7 linked regions of the Homo sapiens genome follow. The protein of the gene in region 6 purifies or fractionates together with the protein of the main gene of each other region. This does not show direct contact. Each region holds a gene or a part of one and is shown on either strand. Other genes may lie near its edges.

Region 1 (4,493 bases), about 44 Mb from region 6:
TAAATTGTTCCATTTTATTTGTTCATGATATCTCCCAGTGCTCAAAACATTATGTGCATATGTATAGACACACATACATTCCTACAGATATATAACTCTGAAAGCAATTTCAGTCTTATAATTACTACTGGCAGTATACCTACAAATGAAAACATTCCTTCCCCAATCTTTTGTATTAGATTAATATGCAAGTTTCTTTTTATCTAAACTGAATTGTCAACACATTTATCCTTTTAGAATTTTCAACTACATTGCAGGGAGCATATTTAAAAAAAAAAATAGACCGTTTCATTTTCAGACCAAATTAAAATATCAGGTACCACTCTGATATTTTTTTTCAAAATTACCTTGTCTGGATCCATCTTTCCTTTGATAAATTCTTGCTTCCAGAACTGCAATGCCTGTTCCAAAGTTAAACCAATGCCCTTCAGAAATAGGCCATACTGCATTCGGCCTCCATGACGAAGATGGTGATTTTCCCGCAAGGCTTTATGTAACTGACGCATGCAAGGTGGGAAGGATTTGGTAGAAAGCTACAAGAAAAAAATAGTAGAGTTTTAAGTTAAGTGGAAGACTTATCAGGTCCCCTGTAATATTTGTTATGGTTCCTAATTCAATTTAATTGGAATAAAAAAAAAACACCATAAGAAAGTGCCACTTTATTACTGTGGTTACAGATGACTCTTATCTGTATAAGATGTTTCTTATTAACATTTTTTACTGGTTACAAGTTAATATAATATTTTAGATACTTTGGATTAAATAACATACTATTAAAATTTATTTTACCTGTTTTTTTAATTTAATTAAACTTTTTCTTTGAAGTTAACTACAGACTCCCATACAGTTACAAGAAATAATACAAAGAGATAGCATATATCCAAATTCCCCCAAAGATAAAATCATATACAACTACAGTAGATTATCACAAACAGGATACTGACATTGATACAATCCACTAGTCTTATTCAGGTTTCCTCAGTTGTACTCATGCACTTACTTCCGTATTAAATTTTATACAGTTTTGTCACATGTAGGTTCATACATCCACCACCACAGTCAACATGCAGAACAGTTCTGTCACCACAAGGATCTCTCATGATTTTATAACCACCCCCATCTATCTTTTGCACCCTGCTCCCCTCCCTCAGCTCCCTAATCTTTGGCAACCACTGATCTGGTTCTCCATCTCTATAATTTTGTCATTTCAAGAGTATAATAGAATCATATAATATGTATTGTTTTGAGATTGTCATTTTTTACTCAGCAGAATTCCCTCAAGATTCATCTAAGTTGTATATAAGCTCATTTCTTTATTACTAATAGTTTTCCATGGTATGAATGTATCATAATTTATTTATTCACTCATTGAAGAACACTTGGGTTGTTTCCAGTTTGGGCTATTTCAAATGAAGGTATTATAAGCATTCTTGAAGAGGTTTTTATGTGAACATAAGATTTCATTTCCCTGAGATAAAAGTACAATTGCTGAATAGCAGATGAACTTTTAAGATAACTCAAATACAAAGCAGAATACAAAAATAAGAGAAACTTCTCATAAGGAAAATTCAAATAAATATGTTAAAGAAACCAAGTTAAAAGGAACAAAGTGTAGTTAGTGCCTTAGTGCCAAAAATGAAATATCATTGCCTACTTTAATTTTTCACTTACGGTTTCAATTGCATTCTCTATGACTTCCTTAAATATCCTCCCAAGACTTAAATTCTTACTCCCTCACATATGCCTTAGCAAGTTCACTTCATCTATAAGAAAGAGCAGGTCTCACTTTGCTTGACTTTGCTGCTCCCTCTAGTGACCATCTAGTTTCTCTTCATTCTTTTACAGTAACAACTTCTGATTTTTTCCATCCCCAGTCTAGTTCATTCAGACCTATATCCTCCCTTGGTTCTATATCTAGAACTAACTAGAAAGCCTTTCAGCTCCTTTTCATGAGACCATTTTTGTTCCTTCATATTAATATCTGATTTTTTTCTAAACATTGTTCTAATCCATACAATCAATATTCAACATCCTTAGTATGAACATGCAAGGTTTCCTCAATATCTGGTAACTACCTTTCTTTTTTTTTCTTCTTTTTTTATTTTTTTGAGATGGAATCTCACTCTGTTGCCCAGGCTGGAGTGCAGCAGTGCCATCTCGGCTCACTATAACCTCTGCCTCCCAGGTTCATGCGATTCTCCTGCTTCAGCCTCCTGAGTAGCAGGGATTACAGGTGCCTGCCAACATGCCCAGCTGATTTTGGTATTTGTAGTAGAGACAGAGTTTCACCATGTTGGCCACGCTGGTCTCGAACTCCTGACCTCAGGTGATCCTCCCACCTTGGCCTCTCAAAGTGCTAGGATTGCAGATGGCATGACCCACTGCGCCTGGCCAATAACTACTTTTCAATTATACATAACAGAACAATTATTTATTAAGTGTTCTGGAAAATAAGCTAGGACCTAATTGTCCCCTTTAATTCAGTTAAGGAAAAAGACACCACAATTATTATATTCACTACTATGTAAGTTAAACACATGAAATAAATGATAAAATGAGGGCTCCAACAAGGGCAAAACTTGAGCACCACAGAAGCACTGTGACAGGGAGCCTGGGAAAGCCCAGTATATTATTACTACACCAAAATGAGTCCTCGGCTCCAGTCCACTGGATTATTCAATATCCCATGACCACGCAGTCATGCTCTGTAGCTTCTCATTTTTCTCACTCTGCTAGCCCTGCCTGGTGCACCCTTCTCATGCACATGCCATGTAGCCAAAGCCAAGTCATCATTCAAGACCCACCTCAATTTCTATTTCTTTTGGCACATTCCTTGATTACTTCTTATTCATTCAATCAACAAATATTTATTTAACACTTACTATGTGTACAGCCCTGGGGAACCAGTAGTGAACAAAGAAGTCAAAAACCCTGTCCTCGAAGAGCTTATTTTTAATAGGAGGAGACGGACAATGAATACAGACATTAAAAAGATAACATCTGATGCCAAAACACTGGAAATGAAATAGAGAAATGAAATCAAGTGTGATTAGGGGAGAGGTACTTCAATTTGGGTGGCCAGGGAAGCCTTTTTGAGGAGATGGCATTTCAAGTAAGACAAAGTAAGTTGGATTCTAGTGAAATGAAGATCCTGAGAAGGAATAAATGTGGTGTGCTAAAAGAGAGAATAAGATCCATGTGACCAGAGCAAGTGAATGAGCCGGAATGGAGCAGAAGATAAAATAGAAATGATGAGCACATATGGCTTCAGAGGCCACAACATGAGTTTGGATTTAAGTCTACATATGATAAAAACCCACTAGAGGGTTCTGACCAGAAGACTGATGTGATTCAATACACAAAGAGAACTCTGGCTGTTATGTAGTGAAAAGACTATATGAGAGTAAGAATGGAAGCAGGAGGGATACTTAAGAGGTGTGGGCAGTAGTCCAAATAATAAAAATTAAAAAGATAGTGTCTGGCTATATACAGATAGAAAAATGATCATGGAAAACAAGCAAACAAAAGAATCATAAGTCCAGGATAGGGGATAAATTATCAACTTGGATCTTGCAGAGGCCAAGAACAATAACAACAATAGCGCCAGTACACAAGACCATTAGCTAGGTGTTCAAATCATCAACGAATACAGGTGTGGGGGGAGGGGGTCGAATAGCAACAAAGGAGGTATCAGATGATATAATAAGATCACAAGGGCTTTAAAGGAGCTGGAGCTGTAACAATGGAAGGCAGAGAAATGCGGACCAAGAAAGACACTCACCGCATACCTATATATGAACTCGGGGGGAAAGTTGTCTCTACTTGAAGAGGCCCACAGCGGAAACAGCATTGAGAAAGCCAGATTTGTTAGAAGAAAAAACTAAAGAAAACATTTGGAGAAGAGTTGCAAATACCAAGGGATATGCAAATGACATGCTGTTGTGAAGATCAAACAATATAGATACAGAGTTAGGAGGCAGTCCAGAAAAAGATACATCTGTATTACTCACCACGGGGTCTCAGGCACAGACCCATGACAGGATCATCATCATAGCACTTAACATTATATTGCTCATTTATTATTTATTATGTTGTCCCTCTCCCTCATGTAAGGTCCATGAAGGCAGGGACATTTTCTGTTTTCCTCACTTCTGTATCCACAGCACAATGGCTGCTACATAACTGATGGGCTCAATACATATCCATTAAATGAATTAATATTTCTATGAACTCCAACAGTATCCAATGAAATTCACATTTGCTTGTGAATAGGGAAACATCTAGCTAGAACTAAGAACAGAATTAACCTCCAACCATTCACATTATATAAGCACAAATCACATGAGTGGAAGTGAGAAAGTGGACTGTTAGAGATAAGTGTTTAATAAAAAAATTAAAAGATGGGACATCTTTGAGAACAAATTTCAAATCAACAAATCAACTGTGTAAAGTAGGCAACCCTACTGTTATTTCTAGACATATTAACTGCAAGT
Region 2 (3,597 bases), on a different chromosome or scaffold from region 6:
CCAGATCCTCTTTAAGACATTCCTTTGAGTGGTTCACGTCCCCTCCTGAGCAGCCCAGGGCTGGCAGTGATGGACGGGCGGCCTCACTCTGCAGAGGGTGCCTGCTGCATTGCAGTCTCTTCTCATCCTTCCTCCTCAGTTCCGAACCCAGGCAGGTGAAGAGGAGGCCAGGAGCAGATGTTAAATTACTGGTATTTGCTGACACAGGGTCCGCTGGGCTTGAGAAATGCCATGTGGTGTCACACTCCACGCAGCGGTCTTCTCTGCTTGGCTCTTTCCTCAAAGACTCTGAGGGTCTTGACACCGGGCCTACACTCAAGTAACATGGTCAACAGGAGGGCGGGATGGTTCTGGGAGGAACAGGACTCTGGCAGCAAATCCAAATGCCAGTGGATGGGCGGCTCAGAAACATTTATATTTTGGGGTGACACATGATGGTTGCCTCACAACCCTGACCCTCAATAGCGGAGGGATTAGTTCAGCAGGTGGCTAAGACCGTGTCTGTGATGACTTCGCCTTCCTCTTCTCTCACTCTGGGGGTGGGTGAGCCCGCAAGTTCCTCATGGAAAACCAGACTTCAATGGACAGAAATTGAGGGGCAAGTCACAATGCCCTTCTTGACACTGAAGGCGGCCTTGGGTCCAGTCTGCTTTACAAGTTATTTCTAAAACCCAAGTGTGAGGAAGTCTGAGAGCCACAGGTAGATCTTTAGATTGTAAAGTGCAAGGACAAAGGTTAAAAGGTTAGAGCTGAGATGAATTTGGTGATTCCCATCCATATATATATATATATATATATATATATATTTTTTTTTTTTTTTTTTAAATGGAGTCTCTGTCACCCAGGCTGGAGTGCAGTGACACGATCTCGGCTCACCGCAGCCTCTGCCTCCCAGGCTCAAGCGATTCTCCTGCCTCCTGAGTAGCTGGGATTACAGGCGTACGCCACCACGCCTGGCTAATTTTGTATTTTTAGTAGAGTCGGGGTTTTTGCCATCTTGGCCAGGCTGGCCTCGAACTCCTGATCTCAGGTGATCCGCCTGCCTCAGCCTTCCAGAGTTCTGGGATTACAGGCGTGAGCCACTGTGGCCGGCCCCATCCATATTTCTTAAACATGTTAAAGCCCGTTCAAAATTTTTCCATTTCAAATGGTATCAAAGTCCTTGCAAATCTCAATTGAGATACCTCATCAATGATTCAATGAGTACCGGGGGTTAGAGGTATATGAAAAGATGAGAAGCTCACACTGGGCTTCTTCAGTTACAAAACCCCGTTGGGATCACACCCACTCTTCTTCGTGCCCTCTTTATGGTGACATTGGTTTGGGGTGCAGATCTTTAGGTGCTAAAGGGCAACTAGACTTGCCGATGGAGGGGTTTGGGGAAAATTAAGGGCAACCTGCACTGAGTTTTCAAGGCTATATAACTTCAGTAGCAGTTGTATGCCCATATGAAACCATGACCACTAGGAGAGGGGCATGGAATGACAAGTCCTAGTGTGATGGGAGTGGGACATTTGGTTAAGTGTTGGTTCAATGATCTAGACTCAATGAGACACTCTGAAAGCTACAAACTGCATCCACTCTGCCCTACAGCACGAAGGCCACGTTTATTACTGAACTCCTAGCCAGCCTCCAGTGCCCAAGAACGGTCAAGAAGATTCCTTGCTGTTCACAGAGACCAGACAGATGATATCGGTCCCGGAAATGCTTCTTCTCAGAAGCAGTGTCACAGAGGGCTTCCTTCCATCCGTTTTTCTGGAGGGGAAGTGATGGAGAATGCTGAGATGAAGAGGAGAGTGACACACCCAGTGGCTGAGAGTGGCAGGCGCTGCACCTGATGAGAAAGTCCACGTGGGTGGGATCTGGGCCACCTGCTTGGAGAGAGCAGCTGGCCAGTGCCCGTGCCAGACCACTTGTTTAGGCATGGCCTCGCCTGCTGTCTTGGTTCCACCGTGGCCCCGTGAAGGCTGTTATCACACCGCAGTTCTTTACGTTATGGTGGATAAAGCGAGATGCTAACACTCCTGCCTTTCAGTGCTGGGAGCTTTCTACATGGTTTACGGGCACTGCAATGAACAGAATTGAGGTAACTGACCACAAACGACCACCACTTACTATCTAACCCCTGCACCCCTCTCTGGCCAGCCTGGCTATCAGGAAGCATCTCAGTAAGAGGTTTATGAGCAGAGTCCATTTAACCTTCGATAAGAAACGCTCCACAGTTTCCTCTCACAGGGAGAGGGATTGTTTCACAGCAGGGAGTAGGGGGAGCTGGAAATCTGACCATGTCAGTTAATGGGACAGTCAAGGGCTGGTGGTGGGAAGTTCCTGGACTGATGGGGCTGTGCTGACTCTACAGACTTTAAATTCTCTGAGTAAGTGGGGAAGGAGAGGAGAAAATGCAAAACAAAAACATCGAGTCCAGCAACTCTTATCAGGAGATGTGAGTGTCTGCTGGGTTCTGGTGGTAGAGGTGGTCAAAGAACTAGATTTGGGTTAAGTTCCTGCCTAATTATTTATGACTGCTGTTGTCTACGCTACGTCCTTAACAATGCCAATACCTTCATTGATTTGCAGTCTTGGGGTCAGCTTTCTGATTTGCAACATGAAGCTGGCTGAATTCCACGAGGTACATGCAGATGTCAGGAAATGGCCACCCACAAGTAGATACTCAGAGCCCCTCTAAGGGCAATAACAAACAGCAAAAATCCAGAATCATCAAATGGAATCCTACAGGCAAGCGGGTGACTGAGACCCCCAAACTCATGAATTCCATTAGGGAACTTTTCTAGAAAACACACCTTAAGATCGGGGAGGGGAAGGACATGCTATTTACTGCTTCAACTCCAGCAGGTATGTCTCACAGAATCCACTACATCTCTCCCTCACTGAGAAGTGGCCTTTTCAAGGATGGATGACTTGCACACAGTAGGCATTTCATAAATATTCTCTGAATGAAATAACCGAGGAAGGAATGTGTGTAGGAGGAAAAACCTTCATTTATGCTAGAAGAAGGTTCCAGGCAATGCACGAGGCTGAGGTTCAGAGAAGACGAGTCAAGGGCAAAGCTAGCAGGGTGAGTGAGGGATCACAACTTCAGCAGCCACTGGGCTGCAGGAGCTCAGGACACGGGTGCTGGCAAGGCAGGCAGCCTCTTGGAGGTGTTCAGGGGAAACCAGCCCAAGAGCAACGGGCATCTGTTACTGGGGCAAAGCTGCAGGCGGGGACAACAGGGTCTCATATGTCAACTTTGTATGTTCTCTTTTTAATTTTTTGTAGAGACAGGGTCACGCTATGTTGCCCTGGCTGGTGCTCTTTCAACCTCACATGTTCTTCAATTAGAGATATTTGATCTAACACCTCAGTATGATAACGTCAACAGTCTCAAACAGGAGAGACTGGTGGAGAACACCTCACACCATCTTCTTGTTAACTGGCCGAGGAACAGAGTGAGGAAGGCTGCGACAGACAGGCAGGGCTGGATGAAGACTCAGACCTTGGGAGAACGAGTGCTCCCAAGCCATCGTGAGGCCTGCTCACAGCTCCCCGGTACAAAGCATCTCATGTGGAAAGTAAGCAGAAGAGACAGTAAAAAGA
Region 3 (4,493 bases), on a different chromosome or scaffold from region 6:
AAATTCTGGGTTGAAAATTCTTTTTTTTAAGATATTGGCCCCCACTGTCTTCTGGCTTCTAGGGTTTCTGCAGAGAGAACCGCTGTTAGTCTGATGGGCTTCCCGTTGTGGGTAACCCAGCCTTTCTCTCTGGCTGCACTTAACATTTTTTCCTTCATTTCAACCTTGGTGAATCTGATGATTATGTGTCTTGGGGTTGCTCTTCCCGAGGAGTATCTTTGTGGTGTTCTCTGTATTTTCTGAATTTGACTGTTGGCCTGTCTTCCTAGGTTGGGAAGTTCTCCTGGATAATACCCTGAAGTGTGTTTTCCACCTTGGTTCCATTGTCCCCATCACTTTCAGGTACACCAGTCAAACATAGGTTTGGTCTTTTCACATAGTCCCATATTTCTTGGAAGCTTTGTTCATTCCTTTTCATTCTTTTTTTCTCTAATCTTGTCTTCACACTTTATTTCATTAAGTTGATCTTCAATCTCTGATATTCTTTCTTCCACTTGATCGATTCAGCTATTGATACTTGCATATGCTTCACGAAGTTCTTGTGCTGTGTTTTTCAGCTCCATCAGGTCATTTATGTTCTTCTCTAAACTGCTTATTCTAGTTGGCAATTACTCTAACCTTTTATCAAGGTTCTTAGCTCCTTGCATTGGGTTAGAACATGCTCCTTTAGCTTGGAGGAGTTTGTTATTACTCAACTTCTGAAGCCTACTTCTGTCAGTTCATCAAACTCATTCTCTGTCCAGTTTTGTTCCCTTGCTGGCAAGGAGTTGTGATCCTTTGGAGAAGAGGTGTTCGTGTGCTTGGAATTTTCAGCCCTTTTCCGCTGCTTTTTCCTCGTCTTCGTGGATTTCTACCTTTGGTCTTTGCTGTTGGTGACCTTTGGGTGGAGTTTTTGCTTGGGTCATCCTTTTTGTTGACGTTAATGCTATTGCTTTGTGTTTGTTAGTTTTCCTTCTAACAGTCAGGCCCCTCTTCTGCAGGTCTGCTGCAGTTTGCTGGGGGTCCACTCCAGACCCTGTTTGCCCGGGTATCACCATTGGAGGCTGCAGAACAGCAAAGATTGCTGCCTGCTCCTTCCTCTGGAAGCTTCATCCCAGAGGGGCACCCGCCAGATGCCAGCCGGAGCTCTCCTGTATGAGGTGGCTGTTGACCCCTGCTGGGAGGTGTCTCCCTATCAGGAAGCACGAGGGGTCAGGGACCCATTTGAGGAAGCAGTCTGTCCCTTAGCAGAGCTCAAGCGCTGTGCTGAGAGATCTGCTGCTCTCTTCAGAGCTGGCAGGCAGGAATGTTTGTCTGCTGAAGCTGCACCCACAGCCACCCTTTCCCCAAGGTGCTCTGTCCCAGGGAGATGGAAGTTTTATCTATAAGCCCCTGACTGGAGCTGCTGCCTTTCTTTCAGAGATGCCCTGCCCAGAGAGAGGAGGAATCTAGAGCTTAAGTTTTTTTTCAATTTCCATTTCTATTTAAGATTCAGGGGTGCAGGTTTGGTACAGGGGCATATTGTGTAAGTTGTTTCTTTCTCTAAGATAAAACATATCCATGAAATATTTGCAGAGCCGGATGACTTCTATATGAATTAGAAGAAAGGGGAAACCTGGGTCTTGTTCATGGCTTTTTATTTCTTCATTACCATCACTGACTGTATTCTTTGCAGGGTTCCTGACTGTTCTGGCAATAAATTTCATTGTAGTGTAGAACTGCCTAGTCTTCCTTTTGTGAGAGAGATATGCTACAGTGAATTTTGAAATGTATAGTTTTAAGCCTTAGAACTGGAAATCAGTAAGCCTCCTTGGGTATGAAATTAAAAGCAGGTATTTGTGAACATTTCAAATTTTTAATTATAACTATTTTAAAACTCTTAATTTACTTTTTCTAGACACTGAAAGATTTTAAGAAATCTTAAAATGTGATTTTCTTTGTAGTATTTATTATTTCTTTAAAAACGATCTGGTAACCTTGAGAGAAAAAATATTCTTATTCTCACAGCTTCTTCACTCCTACATGCTTCTAAAAATATTACAGTTTATCATCTGAAAAATTTGTGGAATTATGCTGAACAGAATATGTAAAAAATTTCTTTAGGCTACTTTTGGCATGTGTTTTTATTACCTGAAGTTTTATGATTATGGGCTATTGCCATTGAAAACAGCTAAGGTTTTAACATTCAAAGATCTAGATTTGCACTGTCCAATACAGTAGACAGTAGACACATGTGACTATTTAAATTTATATTAATTTTTTTTTCCTTTTGAGTTGGGGTCTCACTCTATAGCCCAGGCTGGAGTGCAGTGGCGCAATCACGGCACATTGCAATAACAACCTCCTGTACTCAGGTGATCCTCCCATCTGGGATTACAGGCATGAGCTACTGCGCTGGGCCAGTACTCTTTATTAATATGTGATTATTTCCATTTGAGAAATTTGAAACATTAAAAGAAAACGTTTGGTTAGAGATACATTTGCTTTTTAAAGTCCTGATTTAGTAATTTGGTTAAAATTTTTGGCTGAAGAGAATTAGTGAAGCTTAATTGTATATTTGTACCAATGAATGATTATAAAACTTTATCACTGTAATCCCAGCACTTTGGGAGGCTGAGGCGGGCAGATCACCTGAGGTTAGGAGTTAGAGACCAGCCAGTCCAACATGGCGAAACCCCATCTCTACTAAAACTACAAAAAAATTAGCTGGGCATGGTGGCAGACGCTTATAATCCCAGCTACTCTGGAGGCTGAGGCAGGAGAATTGCTTGAACCCAGTAGGTGGAGGCTGCAGTGAGCTCAGATCATGCCTCTGCACTCCAGCCTGGGCAACAGAGCAAGAAGACACCATCTTAAAAAAAAAAAAAAAAGTTTTGGGAATCAGATTTAAAAGAATTTCCATTACAAAGTAAAACTGAAAGGATGAAAGAAAAAAATTTTCAACTTAGAACTTCTACAAGAGGAAAGTTTTTCATGGATACAAATTCTTTGGTTATATTTTTGCAAATATTCCAGTCTGTGGCTTGTGTTTTAATAGTATTTTTCAAAGAACAGAAATTTTAATATTTATGGAGTCCAACTTATCAATTTTATTCTTTTATGATTCATTATTTATGGGTTCTAAGAAGTCTTTGTTAACCCAGATCACAAAGGTAATTTCTTGTAGAAATTGTATAGTTTTAGGTTTTACACTTAGGTCAATGACCCCATTTCAAGTAAACTTTTTATGATATGAGATATGGGTTGAGAGATTTTTTTTTCTTTTATTTTGACCTCAACACTATTTGTAGAAAAGGTTATCCTTAATTTACTGAATTATCTTGGCAACTTTATCAAAAATCATTTTATAAGTATGGGTCTATTTTTGGACTCTATTCCATTTACCTGTATCTATTCTTTTACCAATACCACACTGTCTTGATTCCTTTATAGGAAGAAATTATTCTGTTTTATTCCTTTATAGGAAGTCTTGACCTCAAGTAATGTGAGTCTGCCAACTTTGTTCTTCTTTTTCAAAATTGTATTGGCTATTTTTAAATCCTTTACCTTTTCTGTATAAATTTTAGAATTTTGTCAATTTCTGCCACAAAGAGTTTTAATTCCACTTATGGCATTCTGGAAAAGGCAAAAATTACCTTAACAAAAATCAGATTGCTGGTTGCTGGAGGTGGGAGGAAACTGACTACAAAGGGGCACAAAGAAATTTCTGGGTCATGGGAATATCTTTACAGCAGCAGTGGTTACATGACTTTATATCACTATATATCTTTGTCAAAGCTCAGAATTGTATAGCTAGAAGGTTATATTTTACTGTATGTAAACAATATCTCAACAAACCTGACTTTGAAAAATAATAAAAAGAAAAGAACTAGGCTCAATAGTGAATTAGACTGAAATTACCTCATGAACAGGCAAGCACACTGATTATGTAAAAATCTTTCTGATGTTTACTTTTGAATTGTTTATTCTCCATTTTTCTACATTAAAGTATTAAGATTAAATGTGTTATATGGAAAGGATTTGAGGGAAAACTTTTATTTCAACTATATAAATAAACGTGTGAGTTGTGATGTAAAACCTAGTTTTTACTGAGAGTCATGGCAAAAATAATTTGAAAAACAGTATCCTAGAAAAACTTTTACCCCGTGTGAATGGGAAAACATACAGCAATGTAAATGCTGCATTATTTTGAAATACTAAAAACTTAGGATAAATTCCATATAATGGAATGCTTATGCACCAATTAAAATTAGAGCTACAACACAAATAACTCTCAAAAACATAAGATTGACAAAGAAAAAGGAAGCTGAAGCAGGTTATATACAGTATACCATTTATGTGCTTTTAAACATGAAAAATTATATTGTTTAAGTGATACATTAGGAATGCAAAACATTCAAGTTTTAGATAATGGCTACCTCTTGAATAAAGGGGATTTCAGCCATATCTAGTATTTATTTTTTAAAAGTAAATATGATAAAATGTTTCCTTTTGTCAAAGGTTTCCTTTTGTCA
Region 4 (4,493 bases), on a different chromosome or scaffold from region 6:
CAGGTGCCTGTAATCCCAGCTACTCAGGAGGTTGAAGCAGGAGAATTGCTTGAGCCTGGGAGCTGGCCAGTGCAGTGAGTTGAGATCGCACCACTGCACTCTAGCCTGAGCGACAGAGTGAGACCCCACCTCAAATAAAAAACAAAAGAAAAATGGCAAACAACTTGATTAGGCAATTCACTAAAGAGGGTATCCAAATGACCAATAAACATATGAAGTCACCAGAGAAATACTAACTAAAACCCAATGAGAATACCACACATACACAAGAATGACTAACTTTTTTTTTAAACTATAAATATCAAGTACTAACAAAAATGGTGAACAACTTTCATATACTGCTGCAGGGGTTGGAGGGATCTGACCGGGGACGCATAAATTGATTCAACCACTTTAGAAAATGTTGTCAGTATCTACTATAGCTGAACATATGTATATACTATGACCAGGTATGTGTCTACAGACAATACTTACCTATTTGCACCCTTTGAACAAGAATGTTCATAACAGCACTATTAAACAATACTGAAAACAACCCAATGCCTAACAACTGTAGAACAGATTAATAAACTGTGGTATATTCATACAAGGAAATAATACACAGAAACAAGAAGTACTACTATATGCAACAGCATGAATGAATCTCACAAATACAATATTAAGCAGAAGACAGACACAAGATTACATATATAATTCCATTTTTTTTTTTTGAGATGGAGTTTCACTCTATTTCTGTAAAAAGGCAAAACTCATCAATGGTCACAGGAGGACAAGAATTACCTATGGAAAGAAGGGACAGTGACTGAAAAAGAAGATGAGGAGGGCCTCTGGGGTGTTGGTAATGTCTCTCTCTTTTTTTTTTAATCTATGTAGTAGTTATGACAGTGAAAATTCATCAAGTTATATACTTAGGATTTGCATTTTTCTATATTTAGGTTACAGATTAAAGGATTTACTTACAAATATAAAGAGCGTATCAGAATACAACCTTGATTTTTCCCATTTAGACTATTCTAAATAACACTGACTCACAGTAATGTCAAAATCAAGTTGTGTACATATGGATAACTCATTGTTGATAAAGACACAAAGGCAATGTAGTGGATAAAGGATAGCCTTTTCGATATATCCAGGTGCTGAACAACTGGATATCCACATGCAAAAAAATGAACTTGAATCCATACCTTACACCATATACACATATTAACTCAAAATGGATCTTAGACCTAAATGTAAACCTAAAATTCTATCTGATCAAAGACTTGTATTCAAAATGTTTAAAGAAGTCTCAAAATTTAACAGTAAGAACACAAACTAATAAAAAATAGGCAATTATTCGAACAGACATATCATCAAACAAGATACATGGATAGCTAATAAGAACATGAAAATATGGGAAATAAAAATTAAAACCACAATGAGATACTGCCACATGCCTATTAGAGTAGCTAAAATTAAGGCCAGGTATGGTGGCTCATGCCTATAATCCCAGTGCTTTGGGAGGCCGAAGAAGGCAGATCACTTGAGCCCAGGGGTTCAAGACAAGCCTGGGGAACACAGTAAAACCAACAAAAACTATAAAAATTAGCTAGGTGTGGTGGTGCATGCCAGTAGTCTCAACTACTAGGGAGTGTGAAGTGTGAGGATCACTTGGTTCCAGGAGGCAGGGGTTGCAATGAGCCAAGTGAGCCAAGATCACAGTACTGTACCCAGCCTGGGCAACAGAATGAAACCCTATCTCCAGGAAAAAAGAATGGCTAAAATTAAAAGGACTGACCATACCAAGGGTTCACAAGGATGTGAAGAAACTGGAACTCTCATAACTGCTGATGGGAATATAAAATGGTATGACCACTTCATGAAACAGTTTAGAAATTTCTTAAAAAGTTGGCCAGGCACGGTGGCTCACGCCTGTAATCCTAACACTTTGTGAGGCACAGATGGGTGGATCACTTGACGTCAGGAGCTACAGAGCAGCCTGACCAACGTGGTGAAACCCCATCTCTACTAAAAATACAAAAATTAGCCAGGTGTGGTGGCACATTCCTGTAATCCTAGCTACTTGGGAGGCTGAGGCAGGAGAATCACTTGAACCCGAGAGGCAGAGGTTGCAGTGAGCTGAGATTGCGCCACTGCACTCCAGCCTGGGCAAGAGTGACTCCGTCTCAAAAAAAAAAAAAAAAAAAAAAGTTAAAACATACACACCTACAAAGCAATCTGGTCATTCTGCTCCTAGTATTCACCCAAGAGAAATGAAAACATACATCCATACAAAGATGTAGACACAAATGTTCACAGTATCTGTCTTTGTAATAGCCCAGAACTAGCAATAACCCAAATATACATAAACAGCCAATAACCAATTTGTGGTATATCCATGCACAATTACTCAGAAATAAAAAGAAACAAACTATTAATACATGCAACAACATAGAGGAATCTCAAAATAATTGTCATAAGTGAAAGAAGCCAGACAAAATAAGTATACATCCTGTATGAATCCATTTATATAAACTATAGAAAATGCAAACTAATCTATAGTAACAAAAATCAGACAGGTGGTTGGTTGGGGAGGTGAGTCATGTAGGGGTGGGAAAGAGGGATAACAAAAGTCCATGAGAAAACTTTTTGGGAAAGTGAGCATGTTTAAAAAGTTTTGGATAAAGTGAATATGGGGTTGGTGTGTATGTTCACTGTCTTGATTCTGGTGAAAGTTTCATGGAGGTACATATGTCAAAATGTATCAAAGTGTACCATTTAGGCTGGGCGTGGTCGCTCACGCCTATAATCCCAGGACTCTGGGAGGCCGAGGCAGGTGAGTAACTTGAGGTCAGGAGTTCGAGACCAGCCTGGCCAACATGGTAAAATCCTGTCCCTACTAAAAATACAAAAAATTAGCTGGGTGTGGTGGCAGGCGCCTGTCATCCCAATTACTTGGGAGGCTGAGGCAGGATAATTGCTCGAACCCAGGAGGTGAAGGTTGCAGTGGGCCAAGGTCACACCACTGCACTCCAGCCTGGGCAACAGAGTGAGATTCTGTCTCAAAAAAAAAAAAAAAAAAAGTACCATTTAAATATATGCAATTTGTTATGTCAAGTAAACGTCAATAAAGCTGTTTTTAAAAGGTTGTATATAAATATTATACACCAGAATTCCTATAATTAGCTGAAAATTAATCCCATTCATTCCTAACAACAAATATTTATCTAGCACCTACCATATGCCAGGCACCCTGCTAGAGTTCTAGGGATACAATGGTAAGCAAATTGACAATATTCCTAACCTCATGAAGTAGTCTGCCAAGGAAGCAGAGATTAATAAAAGATTTAGACAGACACATATAATACAAACTGTAACAAGTGCTATAAAGGAAAGGTACACAAGGAGAAGACAGACTATAATAGGAAAATCAAATCTACTCTGACAGAAAAATCAGTGATGGATACCCCAAGGAAGTCACATGTAAACTGAGGAAGAAAAGGATAATAAATTGAAGATGGAACTTTGCTCAGAAGAGACACTAATAGAAGCAAAGGCTCTGAGGAAGGAGAAAGCATAAATCTTTGAAGGAAAGGGAAGAAATCCAAAAGGCCAAAATCAAAACAATGTAGACAACACTATTGGTCACCTATTTAATAACTGTTCCACTTCTCTTTCCTCATTCCTACCAGAAGTTCAATCATCTACCCTCCTCTATATAGTCACATGCTTTAGAGGAAGCTGACTCCATCCTTGATTTTAGGAAATGGATACTCTTTGTTTTGACTTAAGTCAATCATGGCAACCTCTGTCTCCCTGCCAGTGACTGGTAAAGGAATAGCATGAGTAAAAGCAGAAAAAAGCGTTATTGGATGCTCTAAACAAGAAATGGTAGTTTGGACTATGGAGGTACCAATGGATATGGAGATGTACATGAAGAAATAAGAAAGAGCAAAGTGTCCAGGATGTTCCCTAGGTTTCTTAGGTAAATAATAGTCTATCCTTTCTATACAGCCAAAAGCAGGTGAAATATTTTTTAAATATATTATTAATAATCTTATGTTACTCTTAATGTATTTCTCTAAAATTAGTAAAAATTATTTAAAGATCACACATAAACATACCTGATACTTATGTAGGATACTGGCCTCAGAAGGCCAGGCAAACTTATCAAGAATGAATCAATGAGGCTAATTAGATTTCGTCTTAGGATACAAACATTGTTTTATAGAATTCTAACATATAATTAACAATAATGGCTACAAATAACATCAATTTTGGAAAATCATTTATTTTGCCTTGCCTTCCTTAAAAAATTATTTAGGACAACAAAATGTCTCAATAAATTAAAAGTCAAACCAAGAATTTAAAAACGTCTATGGATTTTTGACCACTCTGTGCTATTTTAAAATCATTCCAGAGAAACTAGATAGAGATATATAATCAGTTATGCTAACCAAACTTATATAAATTAGGGCTTATAACAGTAATAATTAAGACTCTTATTACAGATA
Region 5 (4,493 bases), on a different chromosome or scaffold from region 6:
CGAAGGCCCCTCTTCTTGTTGACACCCACATTCAGAGTGCTGCTTAGGCCTCGGCTGTTGCGTACATGTTTCAGCATCCAGGCCCGTAGATTAGTAAGGCTGCTGTGCTCTGACAGTACAATTCGGGGCCACGGATTACATTCCGCCATGTCCAGGGCTGCAATGGCCATAGCTCGTCCCACCTGTGGGGTAGTCCAGTTTGGCTCAGCATGCTGGTCCTCCCATCCAGGCTGCTACCTTGGGGTGGGTACACAGCACAGTGGAAGGGAAGGAGGGGCCAGACCTATAATTTGCTCATTGGATGCCCTAACCTTTGTGCCCAGGCTGTTTATTGCAAACGGATTTGGAGCTGTTCCCTAAACTACCGCCAATTTGGGGGCCCTCTTCCATTATGAGGGGCAAAGTGTGTCCTTTCTTTCTGGCTGGTGCCATGAAGGAATTCTCCTAGCAGGAAAGGGGTTTGAATCCCTTCTGTAACCTACAGATCTACTTTTTTTTTTTTTTGAGACGGCATCTTGATCTATTGCCCAGGCTGTAGTACAGTGGCGTGTGATCTCGGCTGACTGCAACCTCTGCCTCCCGGGTTCAAGTGATTCTCCTGCCTCAGCCTCCTGAGCAGCTGGGACTATAGGCATGTGCCACTATGCCCAGTTAATTTTTGTATTTTTAGTAGAGATGGGGTTTCACCATATTGGCCAGGCTGGTCTTGAACTCCTGACCTCAGGTGATCCGCCTGCCTTGGCCTCCCAAAGTGCTGGGATTATAGGCATGAGCCACCGCACCTGGCCAGCTCTTTCTATTAGGATAATGGGAATCATCAAGACCACTACAGTCAGGGTGCTTTTGAGCCCAGAAACTAATAAATCCAATAGAATGAGAAAGACAAGCCCAGAGGCAAAGAATCTGACTCAGAGGTGCTAGGGGATTCTCTGTGATGTGGGGTCAGATATAGTGCCTGTTCATCCTTTCAATACTATTACAGTTGTAGTTATGCTCCTGTTAACTGAGGAAAATAATCATAGTGGTGAGACGGCCATAGTGATGAATATCTCTTCAAAGGACCTTAGAGTCAGGCACTAAGAGTGAAGGCCTTTCCAGACTGTAAGGTTTCTCCCTTTTCCCACTTACACCATGTATTCATACCTGCTCAAATAGTTCCACAGTGTATCTGGAGGGGAAAGCCGGCGGGGGAGGGGGGCTGGCACGCCCATTGTCATGGCAGGCAGCAGGGATGCTGTTTACTGAGCGTCCAGTGTTGTAGTTGCATTCAAGTGTGTAGCTAAGACATAAAGACCTTTATCAGTGTCCCGCCTGAACAGATACCAGGACAGAACCATAGAGGACAACTTAGGTGGTCAAAGGAGGCAATCACTTGGAAAAAAGTGAACACAAATGAAAGTGCTAATAATCCATAGCAACTAGCAGCTGACCTTGGTACTGTACCATATACCCAGAGAGTCCCCCCAAGGTAGAGTCCTAGACTAAAGACAATAATGCTAATTGTGAGGTTCTCTTTTAAGAAGACTAAGGTGGTTCCCTCCCTCTCAAACACCCTGAACTGGGTGTTGTTTTTTGTTTTTTTTTTGAGACGGAGTTTCGCTCTTGTTGCCCAGGCTGGAGTGCAATGGCACGATCTCGGCTCGCCACAACCTCTGCCTCCCAGGTTCAAGCGATTCTCCTGCCTCAGCCTCCTCAGTAGCTGGGATTACAAGCATGCACCACCACACCCAGCTACGGTGTTTTCTTTAGGGAAGCTATTTCATCAACTATATCTCAGCTTCCACCCAACCTGTGGATTATCCCTGAGGCTTTGTAGATTGCAACACGGCCGCTTCCCTCTTTAGACTGGCCATCTCTACGGTCTCGGGCATACATATTCTTCTCTGAGAAATTGCAGCCCTGGAAGTCGAAGTGGGCTGAATTCAAGGAGATGAGCTTTGGATATAGCATGTTTTCCACCTGTTTGGGGAAGAAAAGTCAACTCAGAAGGAGAGACAGAAGGGACAAGGTGCAAGGAAGAGATAGCAAGTATGTGACCATGTGACTTAATACACAGCAGATACCATCACAACCATTAACAGTAATCAGTGCTGCCTGAATTCTCAGTTTGACATTACTTCTAGGTGTTGGGAAGCAATTCTTTTTTTTTTAAGCTTTTAGCTTCCTCCCTCCAACAATGCAAAATTTTCCTTCTCTGGATTCCCAGACTCTAGCAGACTATAATGCAGTTAGCTTTCCTTAATAAAAGGTCATGATGTAACAATTGAGACATTATCCCCCTGTGCCATCTCTTCTTGGCCCTTCAAAGCTTTTTCAGAGGTAGTCTACACAGGCCTTCCTTCCAGAAAGCTACCTAAGGCTATCTTCCTTCTGTTCATGGCCTAACCCCATCTCCTAACCTGTAACACTTCTCACACTCACATGACATTCTTAGGATTCCCACCTGGGTGCTCTCATCACTAAAGCTGTTTCCGTACATGAAGCAGCCCCTTTTGGAAGCATGTCCATGCAGGTCCACATAGTAAGCAACGCCACTCTCTTTGGGGGGGATGGTATCAGGGGCTGACTCTTCAAGCCCCGCAGACTGTTGTGGCATAATCCACACACTGTTGAGCTTCTGTTCTGCTGGCTCTGTTTGTTTCCAGGCTTCAGCGTTATGCCTGTCAGCTGAGTGCCCACACTGAGCTTCATTTTGGAGATTGTTGGCTTTCTCCAGGTCAGAAACAGGAGCATCAGGAGGGAGACAGGAACTGGGCTGGTGCTCAGAGGAACTCTGGGAGTTCAGACGAGAGTGCACATGGTGGTAGAGAAGCACAGCTTTGGCCCCATAGATGGCCGGGTGCAGGACGGCATCAGGCTTCAGGTACTGACGGTTCAGATTCACTCCACGTGAGTCTGTGCTGTAGGAAAACAAGGACTGAAGCAGGTTCTAGAGGACTGGGCCAGTGAAGGAGACACTAGTGTAGATGAAAAGGAGACCGTAGGAGACTGACTTATCAAATGAGAGGCTGAAGCTATGTTAGGAAAGAAAGAATTGAAGACAGGGCCTCTCTTTGATCTGCTGTCACCCTTACCATAGAACCCTAAGGAGCTTCCTCAGGGTAGCTGCCTCCACCCAGATGGGCCTGCAGTCATCCTAGTTTGGTTCCTTTCTGGGAGTGCCACTAGATATGATCTCATGCTTTCTCAGGAAGATGAGATGGGCTTGCCTTTATTAGGGTGCAAGAGGACTGGGAACACAGAAGCCAGAAGGCTGACAGAATTTCACTGAGATGCAGGGCATGAGGGGAAATGGGAACAGTCCAGACAGGCTGGGGAAGCCACTTACCGGTAGTGTCCCCGGACCACACCATCGGGGTTCAACATGGGAATCAGCTTAAAGACGAAGAGGCGACGGAGGGTTTGGGCCCGGGGATCATCAGGTCGGAGGATGAAGTCCAGAAAGCCATTGAAGACAAAGCTAGATGGAGTCTCCCCTGGGTGTACTCTACTGCTTAAGAAGAATATCTGAGGTAGAGAGGAGAGCAGACATTAAGTCAGTTACCCTGTAGTTCTACTTTGACAGTATATGGGGGGTGTCATGGATGAGGCAGGAATAGCCGCTGGATTTCCAGCTGGCTGAATCTGCAAGTGGAGCAGGGGCCATCACCCTTGCCGCACGCTGCGGGCGGAGGCCATGTCCAAGATGCCTAGAGATAACATAGTCTTTAGCTATAAACAGTACCTGGTGCTAGAGAAAAGCCAAAGAACTACCTTTATGCTATTTCCACTCACCCTCTTGCCTGCGAAACGGAATGGTCGAGGGGTGCTGGTATCAGGAAATAGCTGCTCTAGACGGGGCTCTCGATCTTCTCGAAGCCCATGGCAGGAAGTGATCGTCAGCAGATCTACACGAAGTCCATCCAGAGAATAGCAAAGGAGCTCCCGATGGTAATAGATGGTATCCAGGGGGCTACAGGGAAAAAAAAATTAAGCCAGGAGAAGTCCCTAAAGTCCTAGTAAGAGGTAGGCCTTGTCACCAGCCCAGGATCTGTAAAATCTGGTCCTTCACCCTAACCTTTGGGGCCTTATAGTCCCTCACAATGTTAAATGAGGCTAAGGATTTGAGTGGGTTTACATTGCCAGAATGAAGAGTACAGGACAGGGTGAACTTGTTGTTCCCCAGTTTGTGGCTTCCTAGAATAGATTACTTAATGTAGTCGGAGTTGTTCTCCGTGGGGGCAGATAAAAAAGGTATACTGAGTCACATAATGCTGGCTAAACTCTGGATAATTAATGGGAGCTGGGCTAGTAAGAGGTCTGAACTGGGCAGGTGAAAGAGTGGAGGGCAGGTGTCGATATGCTGAGATCAGGGTCATACAGAAACATAGTTTTCAAAGGTACCCAAAGTCCTGTCTGTACATTCTGTACAGAAAAAAGACGGATGAAAGTATGGTTCAGAGCTCTAAGAGCAAATTCCAGAAGTAGTGGAGGTGCTGTCTGATCCAGGACTG
Region 6 (4,493 bases):
AGGTATTTCCTTGCTCAGCTTGCCTAGCCAGGTGGCCTTGATCCAGGCAAAATCTGTATTAGTCAGGGTTCACCAGAGAAACAGAACCAATAGGGGGTGTGTGTGTGTGTGTGTGTGTGTGTGTGTGTGTGTGTAGATGAGAGATTCGTTTTAAGGAATTGGCTCGCACAATTGTGGGGTTGGCAAGTCTAAAATGTGCAGGGCAGGCAGGCAGGCAGACAGGCAGGCTGGAGACCCATAGAAGAGTTGATGTTGCAGTTTCCAGTACAAAGGCAGTCTGGAGGCAGAAATCCTTCTCCCTCAATCTTTTCCTGACTCCTGGCTCCTTCAAGCTCCTAAGACAATACTTGAGCAGAAAGGGACTATGTCTCGTGGCACTCCTGTGACCTGCTGCACACACTACCCAGGAGGCTCTTGGTAAAGGTCTACAAACCTACCAAGACCACAGAACTCCATGCAGTTGGTCATGTTTATCTACTTTCCCATCACACTCTTCAAAATATATATGTCTTAAATTTAATAATAATTTAATAATAATAACTAGGTTGGTATTAATAGATGACCACATCTATTATTTCTTTCACTGTTTTGCTATGGTTATTATCAAAACAGTGAAATGCCAAATGTGTATTTCACAAAGTGGATAAAGAACCTACACAATCAGGCCAGGCATGGTGGCTCATGCCTGTAACCCCAACACTTTGGAAGACTGAGGCGGGTGGATCACCTGAGGCCAGGAATTCGAGACCAGCCTGGCCAACATGGCGACCCCATCTCTATCAAAAATACAAAAATTAGCCAGGCGTGGTCGCAAATGCCTGTAATCCCAGCTACTTGGGAGACTGAGGCACAACAATTGCTGGAACCTGGGAGGTGGAGGCTGTAGTGAGCTGAGATCATGCCACTGCACTCCAGCCTGGACAACAGAGTGAGAATCTATCTCAAAAAAAAAAAAAACAAAACAAAGAAACAAAAAAAACCTACACAATCAAGAAATGTCTACATTTGGTTTGTTGTTTGTTGTTTTTGTTTTGAGACAGAGTTTTTTTCATTTTGTTGCCCAGGCTGGAGTGCAATGGTGCAATCTTGGCTTACTGCAACCTCCACCTCCTGGGTTCAAGCGATTCTCCTGTCTCAGCCTCCCGAGTAGCTGGGATTACAGGTGCACAACACCACTCCCAGCTAATTTTTATATTTTTAGTAGAGACAGGATTTCAGCATGTTGGCCAGGCTGGTCTCGAACTCCTGACCTCAGGTGATCCACCACCTCGGACTCCCAAAGTGCTGGGATTACAGGCGTGGCCATCACACCCAGCCGAAATGTCCATATTTGTAATAACTTCCACCATCTAGATTCTTAGAATCAGCACTTTTCTTGGAGAGTGCAGCCCAGATCAGAATGACTGCTCTTAACAATCCCTCCACCCCTCCAGCAGGGTGGTCTCCGCAGCATTTGGTCATGTATCCCCCACACCGTGGGTAACCACAGGAAAGACTGAGCAGGGAGAAAGCATCTGGTACAAACAGAGACAGCTGGGTGCGGGGGCAGGGCTGCACCTTTCAGGTGGCTGAACTTGTCATGTTCATATTTGGGAGCTGCGTGTGGACAATCTTTCACCCACCACATGAACCTGTGAAGCAGAGGATGCTGGTGTAGAGAGGGGTGAATGAGGAAGCAGACACACAGAGAGAAGCAGAATAAAATTCAGAGGGTTTCTGGTTTCCAGGTATCTACTAAAGCCCTGCTGCAGCCCTGTTCCTGCGTCATGTGGGAAACCCCCCTAAGCACCCCCACTGCAAGGGATAGTAAATCTTCAGAGCAGCATGGTGAGCTCTTGGTAACCCCATCAGTACCTTTGAGTGATCACGTAGCTGTGAAGCACGTACTGGATTCACAGCAAATATGACACCTGAAGCTTGGCTTAGGTACCATCCCTTTACCAAAAAAAAAAAAAAGAAAAAATTTAAATATAGTCTCTGAGTCTTACAGGAGGGAATCATCTCTTCAAAAAATAGTTTTAAAAAATCTTCAAAAGCACCATTTGGAAGAGTCTAAAGAACTACTCACTTAAAAATTTTTAAAAATTTTAAAAAGAACTAACTGCATTAGGGCAAAGTAAAAACTACTGTTTATTGAGCTTGATGCAGAGAGCTGAGGGCAGCTGCCAGGTAGGTCTTTATATTTTCCCTCTCATTTTACTTATCACACCAACCCTATATGATAGTGTTAGCTGTGTGTTATTGGTAAGAAAACTGAGGCTCAGGAAGGATGATTATGACTCCCAAAGTCACACAGTAGTAACCTGTCAACCTTTCCTTTCATTGATGAGTGTTATGAAGCACAACATCTTATATAATGATGCTCTTTCCTGGGCTATGATTGCCCTGAGTCAAATATATAACTAAGTGCCTGTATATTTCATTCTTGGTGAAACCCTTAAAACATGCTATTGACTTCCACTTTTTGTTGTTGCTCTTCTTCCCCAGTTTAAGGTATCAAAATGTCCAACTTCTTCATTTAGCTTCTTCTCCCTCCAGTGGAAACTTCTGCAGAATTGCACATTATCAAAGCCAGATATCCTCAACAAAATAATCGTTCAACTGCACCTAATTTCAATTAGATGAAATGAGATTGGTGATGCTTGACTTTTCCTAACAATAATGCCCAAGGGCTTCCTCGGCTCTACGACAAATTGATAGACCAAAAATCATTTCACTCAGTGCTCAGGGGCAGGAACCCAAAGAGAAAAACGCAATCACCTTTTTCACATAGATCCAGAAGAGACCTCAAGCAAGAACTGGAAATGCAGGGTTTGCTAGGATGTCAGAATGGCTGCTGTCAAGTCCAAGTGCATCATGAGCATTATCTGCAGCCTTATTTCCGCTGGCGTGGCAATGCTGGCCAGCAAAATCCTCTCTCAACCCCATTTCCTCCTTGCTCCCTCACCTCTGTTCCTGGCAGCCCTCTTCAACATGAAGCAACTGCTGACACCATGAAGAAGGACAGAAAAGGGCCAATTGCTCCAGGTCCTCAGCTGATGACGCCAAACAAGTTGGGACAAGATCAATGTGCAGCAAGATCAAAGCTCATGGAAACCCTGTGGCCTTACTCACCATCCCAAAAGAGCCTTGCACTCCCATGGAGAAACTTCACCAAGAGAGTCTGCACTGCTGTCTCAAAAACAGAGATCATGAAAACAGATGTCATCACATTCCACACAAGGCAACAGGTATTTTAGCACGGTTCCCCTGCCAGGTTAATTACTCACAGGAGGGTATGTCTTCTGTTCCCAAAGGCAGAGAGCTATCTCATCTTTAGTGTCTGACTGTTCCAGCATCCACACTGCCTGAGGGCTGGATAGAAATTCTGAATCTCAGGTCCCACCCAGGAATCTGGTTTTTATTTTATTTTGAGGCAGGGTCTCACTCTGTCGCCCAGACTGGAGTGTAGTGGTATGATCTGGGCCTTGACCTCCAGGCCTCAGGTGATCCTCCCACCTCAGTCTCCCAAGTAGCTAGGACTACAGGCATGCACCATCATGCCTGGCTAGAGACAAGATCTCACTATGTTGCCCAGGCTGATCTCGAAGTCCTGGGCTCAAGCAATCCTCCTGCCTCCGTCTCCCGAAGTGCTGGGATTATAGGTGTAAGCCACTGTGCCTGACCTGGAATCTGTTTTTTGATAAGATCCCCAGGTGATACAACCACACATGAAAGTCTGAGAGGCATTCAGCTACTGCATGCAGGAGGATAAGAATACTATGTGTTAATTGACACATTCTCTTTAGAACCTTTTGCCTTCCCCCAGGCATACATGTATTCAGTGAAAATGCATTCATTTGTCATTCAATAAATATTCATAGTGTGTCTACTAGGTGACTAAGTGTCTGGCACTGTCTAAGGGAGATAAGGGTACCCTGGTGAACCAAGCAGACAAGGGTCCTACCTTGAAATAACTCACATTCTAGCTGGGGAAACAAACAGCAAGCAAGAAAGCAAGCAAGCAAATGAAAGAGATCATCACACACCAGGAAGAGTGTTACCAGGAAGAGAAAGAGGATGACAGAAGCAGGACTGAGGTTGGAGGAGAACTTTCTAATTGGGAGGGGAGGATCCAGAAAGGCCTCTCGCCCAAAGTAACACGTAAGCTGAGACTTGAAAGTGAGAATGAGCTAGCCATTCCAAAAAGTGAGGCAAGAACCTTCTGGGCAAAGGGATGAGCTGGTGCAAAGGCCAAGAGTCAGGAAAGAGATTGGCATGTGAGGAACAGAAAAGAGGCCAGGTGGCCGGAATATAGAGTCCAGGAGTGTGTGAAGCCATCCAAGAAGTGGGAGAGATGGACAAGGCAGGGCCATTTCAGGCCAAGAAAGTCATGCCAAGGAGCTTGGATGTTATTCTAGGTGCTGTGGGAGCCACTGAAAGTGGAGAGTGATACCTTACACACACACACACACACACACACACACACACACACACACGTGTGCACATGTGCT
Region 7 (4,233 bases), on a different chromosome or scaffold from region 6:
CAGGTTCAAGCAATTCTCCAGCCTTGACCTCCAAAGTAGCTGGGACTACAGGCGCATGCCACCATCCCCTGCTAATTTTCAATAAACGGGGTTTTGCCATGTTGGCTGGGCTGGTCTCGAACTCCTGACCTCAGGTGATCCACCTGCCTCCACCTCCCAAAGTGCTGGGATTACAGGTGTGAGCCACCGCGCCTGGCCCGCCCCTACTTTTTTGTCTAGTTTCCTATCAAAGGAGCCTTAGCTCAACCTCACAAAAGAAAACAGCTAAAGAAAGCAATCTCTATGATCTTCTAAGAGTGACGCCCTAGGGCCAGGTCAAGAGAACGAAAGGGAGGGAATCACTAGGGCCAGCTAACCTCAAACTTACTTTTCCCACTGTCCCTCTCCTTTCCTCACTTAACTGAGTAAAGTGAGTTTTGAACCTCAAATCCCTGTTAAATTGGGTTGCAACCTAGGCAAGAGACCTACAGTAACTCCCCTCATATTCATTCACTGCTTTTCCTCGTGAAGATAATGGGGTTGCTGAGGAAGAGGATATAAGGACATAAAGCCTTAAGAGTGAAGCTGGAGTGTTGCAAGCTGGAAAGTATGCAGCCTTTGTTTAGGGCAACATGAACAAAACTGAGCCTGGGTGGTGGAGTAGGAGGGTGAGCAGATGGTATATGAAAAAGAATCAGAAAAAATAAGAGGTCTAAATAACTCATTAAAGTTTATTACATTAAAACCATATATCACTTTTATATTGTATTTGCCATTTCTGAACAATACAAAGTAGAGGCAAATAGTAACACTTAATAAAAATGTTGCTTCCCCATTCCTTTCCCTAAGACCCAGCCCTCCCTCAAATATTCCCTCCCACCCCTAACAGAACTCTGTCCTTAATAAAACACTTAAATACATCATAAATAGTAAATTATGAAAAAAAAATAGCAAGAATTCTTTCCTTCTTGTAAAAAACATGGCAGCAAAGACAGGCAGCCAGAAACTGGCTGGGGGTGTCTAATATAGACAGTTATTTGGGGTATGGGCTAACATATTATCAAGGCAGGGTGGGATAGAGAAGGGATAGAACAGGAATTCAACAATCTGCCTGAGATACCAGGCCCCCTTCTTCCCCTGACAAGAGTGGAAGGATCAGATGGAAAACCACAACTCTTGTAGACGGGGAGGAGAGGGCATATGTAGCCCCCATTTCCAACTTCCCTGCATGAAGACAGGGGGGTAGGACATATGGCACAGCAATGACCTCACCAAGGCAAGAATCTGCTGTCTCCCCATGAGTTTAAGAAAATATTTGCTGGCCTCACAGATATGGACTGTCTGTTAAACAGACAGAAGTGTCCCCTCTTTACCTTAGCTCCACAAACAGGAGAACACTGTTGGAAAAGATGAGAAGAGCAAAAAAAATCTCCTCTGGAGAATGATCTAAAATTCATTTGGTAAGTCTTCACATTTAGAAAAACAACCAGAATATATTTCAAATTGCAAAATAGTAATAATTACTATAGCCTGGCAGTGAACAGGATTCTGCCTAGGAAGGGCTATGATCTCCCAGCCCATGGCTGCCTCCTGTTTTAACAAAAGGGATAAAGATTACCCCATGTCCCACTCTCTTCATTCCTTCAGCCTTAAGAAATTCATCAAGAGAGGAGGAGTTTAAAGAGGAGCTGCTTCTGGCAGAGCAATCACTACTCTTCTCTTCATAAACACCATGGCTCTTCTGAGGGAACTCTACGAATAGGCATCTTGTCAACACTTCTGGAGTTCTGATCTGAAAATGGCTTGAAATTGTGTGCTGTGTGCTTTTTCCTTTTTTCAGAAAAAAAAAAAGAAGAAGAAAGCTGGGAGGTGGTTAAACACCCTTATCCCCCAAAAACCTTTACAGAGATTACAGGAGTATTCTTCCAGGAGTCAGAGAGAAAGAACTAAGGTAGGGATAATGTGCCAGCTAGTCTGTCCTGAGGAAATTAAGAGTCCGGTTCCTAGTCAAAGACGAGGGGAAAGAAAGCTGCCAAGTCCAGCAATCCCATTTCCAGCATGAAGAATGGGGGTCTGAAAAAAATTCAATAGTGGAGGCAAAGGGTTGGCCAGTTGAAAATCCATACCACCCAACTCTGGAGTGGAGGGGATGCTGCGGTCCTCAACTCTCTGAGGCACTAAGGCCCATTCATGAGGAAGAGGAAGGAGAGAAGGTTCTTCTTCAGGAAGAAGATGGAGGAGCAGCTCCCCTCACTTCTATTACACTCCTTTTTTGATGACCAAGTAGAAGAAAATTCAGCATTGCTGGGGCAAGGGCTGACATCTTGGGATCACAGAGATGGCAGAATCTTGTTCCAGGTCTTCTGAGGCTTTGCGCTTACTGAAAAGGGAGAGTGTAAAGTTAAGGATGTGGAGTATGAGATTAAGCAGAAATGGAATTCAAGCGTTAAGAAATTTCTATTTCAGCCTCAGCCTCCAAGTATGAGGTACCAAAAATATTTTTTAAAAAACAAGATGGCGGCCGCGCATGGTGGCTCACACCTGTAATCCCAGCACTTTGGGAGGCCCAGGCAGGTGGATCACGAGGTCAGGAGATCGAGGCCATCCTGGCTAACACGGTGAAACCCTGCTCTACTAAAAATACAAAAAATTAGCCGGGCATGGTGGTGGGCGCCTGTAGTCCCAACTACTCAAGGGGCTGAGGCAGCAGAATGGCGTGAACCTGGGAGGCGTAGCTTGCAGTGAGCCGAGATCGCGCCACTGCACTCCAGCCTGGGTGACAGAGCAAGACTCCGTCTCAAAAACACAAACACGATGGCTGGGTGCAATGGCTCACGGCTGTAATCCCAGCACTTTGAGAGGCCAAGGTGGGCAGATCACGACGTCAGGAGTTCAAGACCAGCCTGTCCAATATGATGAAACCCTGCGCCTACTAAAAAATAAAAAATTAGCCGGGCGTGGTGGCACGCACCTGTAGTCCCAGCTACTCCAGAGGCTGAGACAGGAGAACTGCTTGAACCCAGGAGGCAGAGGTTGCAGGTGAGCTGAGATTGCACCACTGCACTCCAGCCTGGGCAACAGAGTGAGACGCCATCTCAAAAATAAATAAATAAATAAATAAATAAGTACAAAATAAAAAAATAATAAAAAATAAAAAACAAGATTTAGGAGGTACCCAGATCCTCTAATCTTGACAATTAACTTCCTGCTCCAGGCCATCAGTGATCCTCTTTATACCTTGCAAAACGTTCACCTCCCACACATCCCAGATACTCACATGGGTGAACTCTGACTCTGCAACTTCAAGCTTTTCCAAGGTTGTACTAACAGGAGAAAAAAAATGGAAGCAGAGAGAAAAAGAATTAGAAGACAACAACAAAGGACTCTCCTTTTAAATCTCATACTGCTTCTCTAATTTTCACTTTGGAATCAATTTAGAATTTGGAAAGAAGAGGCTGAGAAGCTACTAGATTTAGAAGCACACTGTTTTAATTAACCATATTTAGCTTCTTGAATACTATAAAATATTTCCCAGTACCCTGCCCTCTTCTGTTTCAATCTCCAGGTGTCGTAGGTACCCTCTAAGATTGCCCCCAATAATCCCTGCCTCCTGAGATCCATGCCATTGTGTAATTCTCTCTCAAGTGTGGGCTGCATTTAGTGATTCTCTTCTCATGAACAGAATGCAGCACAGGAGATGGAATGTCCATTCTGAGATTAGATTACAAAAATACTGTATCTTCTTCTTGGACTCATGCTCTAGCCCCTGCTTGCCTGCTCTGAGGAAAGCCAGCTCCTATGCTATGAGCTGGCTATGGATAGGGCGATGTGACAAGGAACCGAATACTGCCAACAACCATATAAGTGAGCTGAGAAGCTGATCTTCCCTCAGATAAGCTTTTGGACTAATAGCTTGACTGTAATCTCGAGAGAACCCGAGCCAAAGGCATCCAGCTAAGGTACAGAAACTGGGATAACAAATTTTTGTTTTCTTTTTGAGACAGATCTCGCTCTGTCGCCCAGGCTGAAGTGCAGTGGCACTATCTTGGCTCACTGCAACCTCTGCCTCCCGGGTTCAAGCAATTCTCTCGCCTCGGCCTCCTGAGTACCTGGGATTATAGGCACAAATCACCACACCTGGCTAATTTTTCTATTTTTAGTACAGATGGGGTTTCATCATGTTGGCCAGGCTGGTCTCGAACTTCTGGCCTCAGGTGATCCGCCCTCCTCGGCCTCCCAAAGTGCCAGGATTAT

Evidence for each region.
Region 1: the proteins of GFOD1 (region 6) and PRIM2 purify together in Homo sapiens (affinity purification with mass spectrometry, with the first as the bait; one large-scale study listed by BioGRID). This does not show direct contact.
Region 2: the proteins of GFOD1 (region 6) and ERC1 purify together in Homo sapiens (affinity purification with mass spectrometry; 3 studies listed by BioGRID and IntAct, with this or other methods). This does not show direct contact.
Region 3: the proteins of GFOD1 (region 6) and GLMN purify together in Homo sapiens (affinity purification with mass spectrometry; one large-scale study listed by BioGRID and IntAct). This does not show direct contact.
Region 4: the proteins of GFOD1 (region 6) and BRIP1 purify together in Homo sapiens (affinity purification with mass spectrometry; 3 studies listed by BioGRID and IntAct, with this or other methods). This does not show direct contact.
Region 5: the proteins of GFOD1 (region 6) and AGBL5 purify together in Homo sapiens (affinity purification with mass spectrometry; 3 studies listed by BioGRID and IntAct, with this or other methods). This does not show direct contact.
Region 7: the proteins of GFOD1 (region 6) and PIP5K1A purify together in Homo sapiens (affinity purification with mass spectrometry; 3 studies listed by BioGRID and IntAct, with this or other methods). This does not show direct contact.

What each region holds. Positions count from the first base shown.
Region 1 is NC_000006.12:57,533,480-57,537,972, reverse strand, and holds part of PRIM2 (DNA primase large subunit), read right to left. Parts: intron 534-4,493; coding exon 348-533; intron 1-347. UniProt on the Homo sapiens protein: Regulatory subunit of the DNA primase complex and component of the DNA polymerase alpha complex (also known as the alpha DNA polymerase-primase complex) which play an essential role in the initiation of DNA synthesis.
Region 2 is NC_000012.12:1,490,758-1,494,354, reverse strand, and holds part of ERC1 (ELKS/Rab6-interacting/CAST family member 1), read right to left. Parts: 3' UTR 1-3,597. UniProt on the Homo sapiens protein: Regulatory subunit of the IKK complex. Probably recruits IkappaBalpha/NFKBIA to the complex. May be involved in the organization of the cytomatrix at the nerve terminals active zone (CAZ) which regulates neurotransmitter release.
Region 3 is NC_000001.11:92,250,151-92,254,643, reverse strand, and holds part of GLMN (glomulin), read left to right. Parts: intron 1-4,493.
Region 4 is NC_000017.11:61,852,536-61,857,028, forward strand, and holds part of BRIP1 (Fanconi anemia group J protein), read right to left. Parts: intron 1-4,493. UniProt on the Homo sapiens protein: DNA-dependent ATPase and 5'-3' DNA helicase required for the maintenance of chromosomal stability. Acts late in the Fanconi anemia pathway, after FANCD2 ubiquitination.
Region 5 is NC_000002.12:27,054,089-27,058,581, reverse strand, and holds part of AGBL5 (cytosolic carboxypeptidase-like protein 5), read right to left. Parts: intron 3,953-4,493; coding exon 3,775-3,952; intron 3,508-3,774; coding exon 3,329-3,507; intron 2,901-3,328; coding exon 2,444-2,900; intron 1,960-2,443; coding exon 1,790-1,959; intron 1,280-1,789; coding exon 1,144-1,279; intron 183-1,143; coding exon 1-182. UniProt on the Homo sapiens protein: Metallocarboxypeptidase that mediates deglutamylation of tubulin and non-tubulin target proteins.
Region 6 is NC_000006.12:13,477,121-13,481,613, forward strand, and holds part of GFOD1 (glucose-fructose oxidoreductase domain-containing protein 1 isoform 1 precursor), read right to left. Parts: intron 1-4,493.
Region 7 is NC_000001.11:151,245,989-151,250,221, reverse strand, and holds the end of PIP5K1A (phosphatidylinositol 4-phosphate 5-kinase type-1 alpha), read right to left. Parts: intron 3,303-4,233; coding exon 3,257-3,302; intron 2,360-3,256; coding exon 2,357-2,359; coding exon of another isoform or gene 2,275-2,356; 3' UTR 691-2,274; downstream 1-690. UniProt on the Homo sapiens protein: Catalyzes the phosphorylation of phosphatidylinositol 4-phosphate (PtdIns(4)P/PI4P) to form phosphatidylinositol 4,5-bisphosphate (PtdIns(4,5)P2/PIP2), a lipid second messenger that regulates several cellular processes such as signal transduction, vesicle trafficking, actin cytoskeleton dynamics, cell adhesion, and cell motility.